Homo sapiens: one gene and its partner. The protein of the gene in region 1 purifies or fractionates together with the protein of each later gene. This does not show direct contact. Each region holds a gene or a part of one and is shown in the gene's direction. Other genes may lie near its edges. The genes, in order: KDELR3 and INTS12.

The links.
Region 2: the proteins of KDELR3 (region 1) and INTS12 purify together in Homo sapiens (affinity purification with mass spectrometry; one large-scale study listed by BioGRID and IntAct). This does not show direct contact.

What each region holds. Positions count from the first base shown.
Region 1 is NC_000022.11:38,470,985-38,474,806, forward strand, and holds part of KDELR3 (ER lumen protein-retaining receptor 3), read left to right. Parts: intron 1-3,538; coding exon 3,539-3,639; intron 3,640-3,822.
Region 2 is NC_000004.12:105,698,681-105,702,502, reverse strand, and holds part of INTS12 (integrator complex subunit 12), read left to right. Parts: intron 1-2,231; exon of another isoform or gene 2,232-2,488; 5' UTR 2,489-2,497; coding exon 2,498-2,653; intron 2,654-3,822. UniProt on the Homo sapiens protein: Component of the integrator complex, a multiprotein complex that terminates RNA polymerase II (Pol II) transcription in the promoter-proximal region of genes.

The sequences.
Region 1 (3,822 bases):
TACAAAAAAATTATCTGAGTATGGTGGCAGGTGCCTGTAATCCCAGCTACTCATGAGGCTGAGGCAGGAGAATCGCTTGAACCTGGGAGGCGGAGGTTGCAGTGAGCTGAGATTGCACCATTGCACTCCAGCCTGGGCAACAAGAGCAGAACTCTGTCTCAAACAAACAAACAAGCAAAACAAAACTGAAGATCACAAGGGTTCCCAAAGTGCTAAGGAAAATGTGAGTAAAACCCAGGGGACTGGCAGGCTGAGGATGAAGAGAAAAGAGGGGTAGGGGAAGGCCCAAGCGGGTGACCAAGCGTCCCCCACCAGGGCTGCCTCCCAGGCAGTCCTTCGTGGGGCTGAGGGCTTCTCTGTCAAAGTCTGTGTGAGGGCTCAGTGAGATGAACATCAGGCCATCCCAGAGCTGGCCTCAGGTCAGTATGGCCTCCCCCAGTGGGGTTCATTACCCACTGCCAGCCCCACTGTTGCCCTCACCCCGGCTAGTGCACGTGCGCGCGTGCTAGACCCCCCAGAGGGACTCAGGTTCTCACTGAGCACTGTGTATTCCTCAGCTCAGTCCTGCCACTCTGCATGAGGGGCCGTTTGGCAGGTGAGGAATGTGAGACCGAGGCTCGCCCTAAAGCCAGCACATTCTCCAGAATGTTAGGGACTTCAGGGGTGTTCCTTCTTGCTCATTAAAAATGTTCCCCCAGGCTGGGTGCAGTGGCTTACCCATGTAATCCCAGCACTTTGGGAAGCTGAGGCAGGAGGATCACCTGAGCCCAGGAATTTGAGACCAGCTTGGGCAACATGGCAAAATCTTGTCTCTAGAAAAAATATAAAAATTAGCTGGGCATGGTAGCATGTGCCTGTAGTCCCAGCTACTCAGGAGGCTAAGGTAGGGGGGTCATCCGAGCCTGGGAGGTTGAGGCTGCAGTGATCTGTGATTGTGTCACTGCACTCCAGCCTGGGTGACAGAGTGAGACCCTGCCTCACAAAAAAAGAAAAAAAAATGTTCTCCCACCCCAAATGTCTGGAACCAGAGGGATGGTTAGAGAAGGCACAGTTCAGGGGTACAGGGGAACCAGACCCTGAATTAGACAGCACAGTAGTTCCCCCTTATCCACGGAGGATATGTTCCAAGACTGCCAGTGGATGCCTGAAACCACGGGTTAAACCAAACCCTATATATATACTGTTTCTTCCATCTGATAACCAAGACTGCTGTCCGGGCACAGTGGCTTACGCCTGTAATCCCAGCACTTTGGGAGGCCGAAGTGGGCAGTCACTTGAGGTCAGGAGTTCGAGACCAGCCTGGCCAACACGGTGAAAACCCATCTCTACTAAAAACACAAAAATTAGCCGGGCATGATGGTGGGCGCCTGTAATCCCAGCCACCCGGGAGGCTGAGGCAGGAGAATGACTTGAACCCGGGAGGCAGACGTTGCAGTGAGTCGAGATCGCACCACTGCACTCCAGCCTGGGTGACAGAGTGAGACTCTGTCTCAAAAAATAAATAAATAAATAAAAAGTGGCCAAAGGACACTAAGGAGCATGACAACAAAATGCAGCATGGATTCCGGGATGGAATCCAGGAATGGAAAAAGGGCAGCAGTGGGAAAACTGGTGAAATCAGAATAAAGCCTGGAGTTCAGTCAACAGTGCTCTACTGATGTTGATTTCTTTGTTTTGATAAAGTACTGTCACTAAATACGATGTTTTTTTGTTTTGTTTTGTTTTGTTTTTTAAGACAGAGTTTTGCTCTTGTTGCCCAGGCTGGAGTGCAATGGCACGATCTCGGCTCACTGCAACCTCCACCTCCTGGGTTCAAGCGATTCTCCTGCCTCAGCCTCCCAAGTAGCTGGGGTTACAGGCATGAGCCACCACACCTGGCTAATTTTGTATTTTTTAGTGGAGATGGGGTTTCTCCAAGTTGGTCAGGCTTGGTCTCAAACTCCCAACCTCAGGTGATCTGCCCGCCTCGGCCTCCCAAAGTGTTGGATTACAGGCATGAGCCACCGCCCCCGGCCCAAATACGATGTTAACACTAGATATAGCTGGATATGTGGGATTCTCTGTACTGTCTTTACAACTCTGTTGTAAATCTAACATTCTTTCAAAATAAAAAGTTAAAAAAAGAAAGAGACCAAAGTGGGTCAAGAAACAGCATTTAGACTGGGCGCGGTGGCTCACGCCTATAATCCCAACACTGAGAGAATGAGGTAGGAGGATCACTTGGGCCCAGGAGTTTGAGACCAGGCTGGGCGACATAGTGAAACTCTGTCTCTACAAAAATAATAATAATAATAATTAATAATAAAATTTGCCAGTCTGATGGTTTGTGTCTGTAGTTACCAGCTACTCGGGAGGCTGAGATAGGAGAATTGTTTGAGTCCAGGAGATAGAGGCTGCAGTGAGCTATGATTGCACCACTGCACCCCAGCCTGGGAGACAGAGTAAGACCCTTTCTCTAAAAAGAAAAAAATAAAAAAGAAAGAAACATCATGGAGAGTATGAACCCTTTTTTGTCAACTCAGTGCATCCATGTGCATCATATGTGTACACATAGGTGTCATGTGTGTACATGTTCACAAAGATATGGAAGGATGAACACTAGGGGTTTGGAATATTTTTATCTTTGCATCTTTGTATATTGTTTGATTTTTGTTTTGCAAAGAGTAAATATAGGCATAACTTTTGTAACTAGAAAAAAGGCTTTTTGGCTGGGCGTGGTGGGTCATGCCTGTAATCCCAGCACTTTGGGAGGCCAAGGCGGGCAGATCACTTGAAGTCAGAAGTTTGAGACCAGCCATGACCAACCTGGCGAAACTCCGTCTCTACTAAAAATTCAAAAATTAGCCAGGCGTGGTGGCAGGCACCTGTAATCCCAGCTACTTCGGAGGCTGAGGCAGGAGAATCACTTGAACCCAGGAGGCAGAGGTTGTGGTGAGCCGAGATCACGCCACTGCACTCCAGCCTGGGCAACAGAGTGAGACTCCATCTCAAAAAAAGAAAAAAGAAAAAAGAAAAAAGGCTTTTTAAATCTTACAGTTTGAAAAATAAAATAGAATGCTCCCCTGGCCCTGAACCTTCCTCTGCCTGCTCTGGTCTCCCTGGTGAATCAACACCTTGTAAAGTCAGTGAGTTGTTCCTCCTAAGACTGAGCTTTGGGGACTGTCAGTGGAACTCTGGGGGTGGAGTGAAGAGAAGCCTCAACAACCCCCACCAAGCCCGACTCACACCACCCCCGACATCCTCCCCAGAGCAAGAGCCCAGGCAGGCACACGCAGGGGGACTGGGAACTCGGTGTTCGTGTCTTTATTTGGAGACTGGGAGACAGATTACAGTTTAATGAGAGGAACGACGACTCAAGTGATCCGATGGGAAGGGTGAGTTTCCTGGCCCTTAGGGAGCGACAGTGCCCTGGACAGGAGGTCTTTGAGTGGGAGTGGACACTCTAGAGGCCTCCCCAGCTCCAGGCTGTGCACCTCTTGAGGGTGGGCAGGCTTGGGAGTCTGTGTCCTCATTGTCTCCTGTCTACCCTTGGCCACAGGCATCTCTGGGAAGAGCCAGATCCTGTTTGCTCTCGTCTTCACCACCAGGTACCTGGACCTGTTCACCAACTTCATCTCCATCTACAACACAGTAATGAAGGTGAGGGGCTGGGTGATGATGGTTGGGGGAAGCCACCAAGCCCCCACAAACTGTGAGGTAGCCTGCTTGGAAACTCATTCTGTGGAGCCAGGCCGACCTGGGTTTGAATCCTGACTTTGCTGCTTAGTGGCTGCAAGACCTCATCTTGGGCCTCTTTGTATGTCAGTGTCCTCGTGCAAAAAT
Region 2 (3,822 bases), on another chromosome or scaffold:
ATAACACACTATTATCACTCTGTATATGAATAGATTTTTAAAAAATAAATAGAAATAGAAATAAATTGGCTGGGCGCGGTGGCTCACGCCTGTAATCCCAGCACTTTGGGAGGCCGAGGCGGGTGGATCACAAGGTCAGGAGATCGAGACCATCCTGGCTAACATGATGAAACCCCGTCTGTACTAAAAAATACAAAAAATTAGCCGGGTGTGGTGGCGGGCGCCTGTAGTCCCAGCTACTCGGGAGGCTGAGGCAGGAGAATGGCATGAACCCGTGAGGCGGAGCTTGCCATGAGCCGAGATCATGCCACTGCACTCCAGCCTGGGCGACAGAGCGAGACTCTGTCTCAAAAAAAAAAAAAAAAAAAAAAAGAAATAGAAATAAATTAAAAAGTTAATATTTTTTTCTCTGTATTCCACCATGGGGACCACTGGGTCAAAGGGCCATGTTAGTAATTTAGGGGAGGGGTACAAAGCCTGTTAAGTTTTATAATGGCAAGATTGCATAAAAAGAACTGACTCCAAGGTTCCAACTGGAATGTTGGTGTTGATGACTTCCGCAGTCTTGTAATCTAGGTGCTGACTCTTGTCACCTAATCTGTAATGTAAACCTCTTACCTGTGATTGTAGAAATACATAGCAATAAATACTTGGCTTTCATTTTTCAGCATAGAAATTTCAAGAAATGGTTTTTCTAATATATTACAAGGGTTCTTTTAGGTGTCAACCCTTTGGTCAGCACCCAATAAAATAAATTGTTTTATAACAATCTGGATAAGTAAACTGCTATTTCCTTTACCTATATGAAATAAAATCAGTAGAAAGATTAGTAAACTGTCACAGGAGTGGAATTTAAAGAAAAAAAAGAGATTAGGCTGTTACCCTTGTATATGCTGGGGGAATGGCAGGTTTACCCTTTTAATCTTGGAAATTTTATTAAGGAGCTATTTTTTCCTCAGAACGTACATGGTGACCAGCCCCATGAGTAAATTTTAAAATAATTTTTCTGTACCTATCATTATGTAGAGGTGATGTATATAATAATATAATTTTAAGAAGTGACAGAGGCTGCTTTTCAATTTTGTTAAATTCTTAGAAATACAACAGTTTGAGATAAGGTTACTTTTTCATTATAGTACTGGCCTTTGGATTCCTTTCCATGGGTGATTCAGATGATATTTTAGTACAGTACAGAATTCGACAGTAATTTTGTAGTTATCAGGTAGATAACTAATACCTTCCTGGGAACTTAAAAAAAAAAAAAAAAAAGCCTAGGGATGTGTATGTGTGTTTCTTGTCAGATGTGGAGAAGGATGAGGAGTGAAGCTGGAGGGGAGGGGACAACAAAATCCATTTTCAGATGTGCTTTCATATGCTAGGATTCAACCTACAGCAAGTTTTAATGGTGTTATAAACCCCTGAAAATGGGAGATAACTGTGGAATTGCTGACAGTTCCCTAACTATAGCAATGCAAGTGTGCTGCATTAATACAATATTAACCTCAAGGATAGAAGATTTCAAGCCATAGTATATTGATCAAAGGATTGAACACAAAGAATACATTTTTATTTTGATAATTTCTTGCCTGGAGAGGTCTTTGAAAAAGTGACAACCAGAAGCAGAACCACATGATAGCATTGGTATTAACTAAAAACAAAACTTTTTAGTATTGTGGAATTTCATAAGCCTTTGATGTATATCTTTATCCATCTTGGCTATTTTTTAAGCTCTTTAGGACACAAAGCATCATAGGCTCTGTGTGTGTGTGTGTGTGTGTGTGTGTGTGTGTGTGTGTTTTAAGTAGATATGATATTATCCCTCAGAGACCTTACTTTTAAAAATAGGTTAATGCATGAGATACCACAATCTAAATGTGATCAAATAAGGTTATCATTAATATGTTTTCTGAGACATTTAGGGTTGGGGCAGAGAACTGAAGAGGTGAGTTTAGAAAAAAAAAAAAAAAGAGTTGAGGTAAAAGTGGCAGCAGTGACCATGATAGCTAATCACTTAATATACCTTTTCACCATTGCCCTCTTACGATAGCCCTTACACACACAAACACCTGCACACTAAGTCTTCCCTTGTGTTATGGAAATAAGGTTTGAGAGAAGAAATTTTGATACAGAGTAAACTTGACGTAAACCCATCAAGTTCTATGTACTGAAACTGCGAAGTGTATCTTTTAAAACACAGTTAGGAAGGAGTTCTGTGGCAGGGAGAGGCCTACCTGGATTTAAAACGTTACCATCGATATGGATACACAGAAAACTGATACTGCTAGTTGTTTCAGGGGGAAGGAACTAGATAATGCCTGTCAGGAATAAGAAGGAAATTTACTTTTATTTGTAATAACTTTTTGGTGATTTTAAATTTTATATCATGTGTACAGTATTATCTATTACAAATTAAAAAACAGAAAAGTAAAACTTTAACATAGATAATTGTGCATTGTCTTCTAGATTACTTTCTCTTTTTTTCCTTCAGGCGTTTGCAATGGCTGCTACTGTGAACTTGGAACTTGATCCCATTTTTTTGAAAGCACTAGGTTTCTTGCATTCAAAGAGTAAAGATTCTGCTGAAAAGCTAAAAGCACTGCTTGATGAATCTTTGGCTCGGGGCATTGATTCCAGTTACCGTCCATCTCAAAAGGTACTTGAATGAATAAAAAGCTTGGAGAGAGTTTTGTAAGGCCTGTAGTACTACATTGATAACATATAGACCATCTCAAAACAATCTCTGCCGAAATAATCTTTCCTTGTAGCATGAAGAAATTATATTCTTTATTTTCTTTTTTCCCTTCAAGTTTTCAGAGAACTGTTACACCACATAGAAAAATCAGCTGGGGGTGCAGGATATTCTGTTCTACTACTTTATGTGTATATGAATTCACTTGTTTACGACTTACTTTAATTTCCGATTCTTTGTGATCAGAATTTTTTTTAAGCTGCTGAATGTAACCACAACTTACTTCTAATTATTGCCTAATATTTTAAGGATTAAAAAAAATCAAGTAAAAGGACAGATCTTTCAACAAAATAAATTGAATATGGGTAGGATAATTTAAGAGAAAAGGAGGTATGGATGAACTCTGAGAACTGTGTAGCTCCTGTCTTGATAATAACAAAGCAGCCAATGGCAGCTTTATGTGAAAAGAATATATGTTTTGATACCAAACACACCTGTTTTAAATCCCACTTAAATCTTATAATTGTGTGATGATAATAGACAACGTATCTTGATGTCCCAGGCACTTTTCTGAGTAGTTTATGTGAATAATTAATTTTAATTATGATAATGATCCTTTAAGATAGATAACTGTTTTCTTCATTTTACATAAGGAAACTGAGGTACATAGAAACTTCATTTCACTTAGTCTGTTTATTGGTAAAATGGGGATAATAAGAACTACTTTGCAGAGTTGTAAAAATTGAAGGAGATCCAGTAAATGAGTTACCTAGTGTAGTACCTGCCTGGTACATAATAGGCTGTCACTGAATGACAACTCTTATTATATTCCCTAATACCTACTAAGACATTCTATCAAATCCTTCTAAGCTCTGACCCTCAAACTCCAAATCACTCAGGTCTGTGGACTTAGATCCCAAACTGAGAAGGAGAAAATAGAACATGACTAGCTCAAGTCTAACCAGAATCTGAAGCTCAAGAGAGGATCTAGTCCCAGGCTCAGAGCCCAAGTAAACACTGGCATTTTGTCCCCAGCCTTCTTTCAATACTAGGTCTAGTACTCCGAAGCCTTTTTATTGTATTTTGAATAGCAGAACCATTGTGACTTCATTTCTTCTATCCATTCTCATTGC